2 separate regions of the Homo sapiens genome follow, and region 2 is linked to region 1. The links come from fine-mapping of genetic effects on gene expression. Tissue or cell type: whole blood. Region 1 holds a variant in brackets; the other region holds the start of a gene. All regions are shown on one strand. Distances are between the middles of the regions.

Evidence for each region. PIP is the estimated chance that this variant, and not a neighbour inherited with it, causes the effect.
Region 2: it holds the start of ENTPD4, and the variant in region 1 is fine-mapped to the expression of ENTPD4 in whole blood (TOPMed, PIP 0.98).

The regions. Positions count from the first base shown.
Region 1 is chr8:23,262,091-23,264,770 of GRCh38, forward strand. No RefSeq gene overlaps it. Among named protein-coding and RNA genes, the nearest start is that of CHMP7, 20 kb to the left of the region's middle. The variant G/A (reference allele first, on the strand shown) is at 1,153.
Region 2 is chr8:23,456,214-23,458,893 of GRCh38, forward strand. It overlaps ENTPD4 (ectonucleoside triphosphate diphosphohydrolase 4), which reads right to left and starts at 1,434. Exons shown (of 13, transcript NM_004901.5): 1 at 1,344-1,434. ENTPD4-DT (ENTPD4 divergent transcript) reads left to right here and starts at 1,558. Exons shown (of 5, transcript NR_186533.1): 1 at 1,558-1,776. RefSeq lists a silencer at 968-1,647.

The sequences.
Region 1 (2,680 bases):
AGGCCACAGGAGAATATGGAGAGCCTGACCGTGTGAGCTTTAAGCTGCGGCAGCTGCTGCTCCATCCAAGTGGCCGCTCTCACTGAGCTCCCCTGGGGAGGACTCATTCTTTGAATGGCCTCCCTGGTTTTAGCAGTGTGCCATTGCTACTGTTTTCCATTGCCTGGGCTCTGTAAGTGGCCTAATTTCTTCTGCCCATGTGATTGTATCATATTTTAGTCTGGCACTGGTATTTCTCAGCCCCTCCTCCAGGGATGGTGTTTGCCACACCCTGTGAGGGAGAGGGGCTTTGAGGCTGAGGGCAGCATTAGGAATAGGCTAAACAACTGGCCGCAGCACTAGGTCTGCAGCTCCAGGTAAGGCAGAGGTGAACTGGCCAGGAAAAGGTGGTGACAGCAGCGGCTCAGAAAGCCCTGGGAGAATCTAAAGGACCTGATGAGAAGGGCGAGGGACTGGAGCTCACAGGCCCTGCGGAAGAGAGGGCAACCGCTCTTCCATTCCTTCTGCTGGAAGGAAGTGGCCTGGACCTGGTGAACCTTGTTAATCTGATTTAAGGTTACTTTTTCTTTCACTGTCCTGAGCCACTGAAGAATCCTTGTTAAATGATCCAGACTTACTCTTTGCTGTGCTACAGGAAATTAAAAGGAGCTGTTGAGTCTGCTTGGAGCAGAGAACAAGAAGGGGTAATCTACAGGACTCTGGTGGTGGCGGCTACAGCTGCCAGCATGGAATTCCCATAGCTGGACAATCAGGGCTGAGTGGCCTCAGGAGTCGGCGCCATGGAGGGATTCACTCCTCTTGAGAGTTTTCTTTTTTAGTGTTTTTTTTTTTTTTGAGACAGGATCTTGCTCTGTCACCCAGGCTGGAGTGCAGTGTGAGATCAGGGGTCACTGCAGCCTCGACCTGGGATCAAGCAATTCTTCACACCTCAGCCTCCCGAGGAGCTGGTACTATAGATGTGCCACCACACCTGGCTAATTTTCTTTATTTTAGTAGAGATGAGGTCTCAAACTCCTGGCCTCAAGAGACCCTCCCACCTAAGCCTCTCAGAGTGCTGGGATTACAGGTGTGAGCCACTGCACCTGGCCAACTTCTCCCTTCTCTTGAATCCTTGCTGCCTCACGACAGGTGTCAGAGCGGCACCACCACACC[G/A]CAAAGTGAAGAGATGATGCCGTGCCTGGGAGGGTGGCTGGAGAGTCCCCCATCACTGCTAGTATGGGAACGGTGATGGTATGCAGAGAGGAGGTGTGGTTAGAAGGGTAAGTGGGTATTTGGAGGTGAGGGGAAGGGTGCTACCTGGGAATCTCCTGGGCCTGCCTAAAAGGGTTGTGTAACCAGAGTCCTGGGACCGGGGTGGGCTTTGCAGTCAGACATGCTGTTGTGAGAGAGACGAAAGGGTTACACTGCGGTTCTCACTGCCTGCCTGAAGTGACAGCCGAAGGCTGAGCAGACCTCCGGGAAGTGGTCATGAGGATCTGGCTCGATCTGCTGAAAATATAATCTAGGCCATCAGAAAAGAGGAGGGAAGAGCTGGAGCTGTGAAGAAAGATGAGATCACTGAGAGCTGCTGAGTCCCAAAGAATCAAAACGAAGCCCTGCTCTGAGGCTTGTGGGTGAGCCTGGTGACCTTCCTTTCTTTTGAACTGTCTTCATGTCTTCTCATTTTTACGTAGTTGTGGCTACTCTTTGGGGAAAGTGTGGCTGCTTTTCTCTGTCTGCACAGAAGCAATGCAAGGTTATAGACTCCGGAACATGAGAGCCAGAAGGAGCCACGAGAAGGGTAGGGGAAACGTCTGTTTTACAGAGGAGGACCCAAATCTTAGGCAGCTTGCTGAGGCCACAGAGCTCACAGGGGAATTTAGTTTGTTGACTTCCAGCTTGGAATTCTTTGTCACACAAGTGTTGGGGCTCATAAAATAATGCCCAAAATGTGGCACTTGACGAGCTGAACTAAAGCAGCAGCTTCAAGGTTTCTCTCTGGCTTTCCCCCGCCATCGTGTGTCTGTGACCCTTTCTTTTCTTTTCTTTTTTTTTTTTTTTTGACCCTTTTCTAAAGCACCAGGAGCATGCTGTCTCTCTGACCTTTTTCTTTTCTTTTCAACCCTTTCTTTTCTAAAGCACCAGGAGGACCTCTTTCTCTGGAAGTTCCCTTACCTGATTAAGAACACTTCTAAAATAAATGCAGCCGTCTTAAAGCCCCCTCCCTATGAATCTCATTAAATAACCAGGAATGATTAATCACCCAAGAAAAGACTGAAAAAGAAGCTACAGCCAGGATACCATACCCAGACAGACTTTTCGTCTTTTCTTCTGAGGGAGGTTCCAAGAGATAACCTGGGAGACTGTATCTGCATAATAAGACAACCTTAGTTCACAGTGCAGTACCACCCCTCACCTTCCATGACTTGTCCACAAGCTATTGTTTGTCCTTCAGTCCCATTCAGCATCCAAAGAGAACCATTTGCAAACCACTGTCAGGTATTTGGGTCCATTCATTTACAGCCCCCCAGCTCCCTTTCCCTAGTGAAGAGAGTATTTAAGTGCCAACCATTGGGCCTTTCTGTGTATGTTCATATTTTTTATATGGCTTCCCTGCTTCATGCATGTTAATAAATTTGTTATGATTTTCTCTTGTTAACCTGTCTTTTATTATAAGGGTGTTGGCTGTGACCCTTAATAA
Region 2 (2,680 bases), 190 kb after region 1:
GCTCCAGTGCAGCAGGTCTCTCTCTTCTCTCCCACACAAGCTGTCTCCATGCCTGCCTCAGGCATTTACTAACAGCACTTCCTCCGAGCCACCACCGTGTCCTCCTCTCAAGACTACACTTCTTTCAAGGCACAAGTCAACATGTTTCTTTGTCAAGATTTAACCTGTTACACATCCTGATGTTTTCTTACAATTGGAATCGTCTCTTTATTCATGAGTAGTCTATTTTAAATAAACATGCTGAGTAAATACGTAGAGAATATAAATCCTTAGATAAATGTTCATTTTTGTCTCCTTCCTAGACTATATCCTCAAGGGCCTCAGTCACACATTTCCTATTAGAGGTAGAAGAATATAAGCCATAGATTCAACATGCAACAACTACAAGACCTCTGTTAAGGTAAACAGAGAAATAAACGATTCAACTACACGAATTAGTGTTCCATTTTATAATTCTACTATGTCAAACAGAATTAACAAACCTGATACAAAAACATCAAATATATGGTAACACAAATAATATAACTCTTTTAGGCCTCTCTAAAGCTGGATAATTTGGTATTTTCATCACAAAAAGGAGACAACAAAGACTGCAATGCGAAATTAGCCTGGGCTTTGAGTGTCTAATTTAGAATTCTTCCATTACCTCTAGTTTACCTTCTAGCCTGAAAGTTCCTGAATCATAAAGGATCTCTTTAGTTTCCTTCGTGATAAGTGTTCTCTGAAAACGCTCTGCACTAGGGTTCATCTAACTGGGGTCTGAAGCACCCTAAGGGTTCTGGGACACATTCTAGACCATGAGAGAATTGTTCCTTTAAAAGGGGTCCGCGCATTACTCAAGTTCAGAAACAATGCTGTGCATCATCACTTTACTGCCCAATAAGCTCCATTTTTCCAAGAAGAAATCTAACATGAAATCTGGCAAAAGCAAAGCAAAGCGAAAACGACAAGACGAGCGAATGTCATCATTTAAAGCGGCAGGCAGGGCCGGCTGGGTCCCGGGTGCAGCATCCCTGCTGCCCGGTCAAGCTCCGCCCATTCGAGGGGGGGATCCCGAGCGGTCACCCGAGGCGCGCGACCGCCAGGTGTCCCCTGCCAGGGGCTGGGGGAGCGCGCCGGCCGCCAGGGCTCACAGGGGTTGGTCCCGGGGCGCTCGGATGTGGCCGCGCGGCAGGGGAGGCGGGAACCGGTCCGCGGGGCTAAGCAGGCGGCTGTGGGGGCCTGGGGCAGAGAGGCTCGTCCGCGGCCCGCTCGCCGCGCCGCCGGCCCCCGCACTCCAACCCACTCGCCGGCCCCTTCGGCCGCCCGCCCTCCCCTCACCCACGCTCGGAAGGCAACCTCACCTGCTTGGCCGGCCGGGGACCCCGGGAGCGGGGGACCACCAGTGGGCAGCATCACGGCCAGCCGGCTTCCTGGAGGCCGCGCTCCTTTCCTGGAGCCGCACCCCCGCCCGGCCCCCGCCGGCAACACGTCACCGCCTGCGCCCGGAGCGCGCCCGCTGGCGGCGGGAGCGCGCACGCCGAGGGGCGCGTTGAGCGCTGGGGGGCGGAGCCTGATGCGGGATGATTGGCGTCCGAGCGCTGGGCTGTTCCGTGGACCCGCGCGGCCACGCCAGTGTGCTGTGCACGGGAAATGTGGACGTGGGAGCACGGAGGCACCCAGTACTGTGGCGTGGTGCTCGTCTGGTCGTCAGCGAGCCTCAGCGTACTTAGGACACCGCAGTTTATCTTTCCTTAGCGCTCCTAACGGTTATGGAAAATAGCGCTTGAAAACCTGGTAAGGACTAGGCATTGTTGCTCAACTCTTGACATTTACACCTTTGCCGGTAACTCTCCCTGTTTCACAGATGGGGAAACGGAGGCTCACACTTATTCAGTCTCTCTTGAGATCCACCTGATTCGTGAGAGGTAGAGCCAGGATTTCATTCTTGCCCGTCGATGGCATATGTTAGTGCCTATGTTGGGGGAGGCAGACTGCCCCAGCCCTCCCCAACACACGCAATGGTTATGAGAAGAAATAAAGCGAAGGGTGTTCCTGAGATTGACCCCATGACCTACACTTAGTACAAGGCTAAGCTCTCTTAGCTCTCTGGCTTAGCAATAAACTGCTTTGAAGACACAGAACTTTGCACTTGAGAGCCGGAAGAGACCTTGGGAATCCCGGGTTCCATCCTTTCTTCCACCTTGTATACAGGTGAATGCACTGTGGCCCAGAGATAGGAAGTGACCAGCAATCCAGCCACTTTAAAAGATTTTTAAAAACAAGAGCCCTAGAAACGTCTACTCCATTCCATTTATCAAGTAAAACAAGCATAGACAGAACTGGCAGTTCTACATCTTAACACAGAATCCTTCTTGGTCCAGCACCCGCCTGGGTCACCTCCTCTTCCTGGATTCAGCTACTGTTAACGGAAGAAACCATGAAGCCTCAGAAGGTTAGAGCCAAAGGGACTCTACTGTGTAGCCCCAATCACCTTCTTTTACAGTTAAGAGCCTGGAACCCAGAGAGGTTGAGTGACTTGGCCAAGACCCCCTGGAGGCAGAGGAGAGCAGAACCAATGTTTCAGACTCCCACATGACTTGCGCATCAGTGTCTTTTTTTTGACAATCTGTTGCTATAAGAAATTACTCGTTTGGATAATTTTCACACTAGAAAACCCTGTGACCCAAGGCTAGCATTG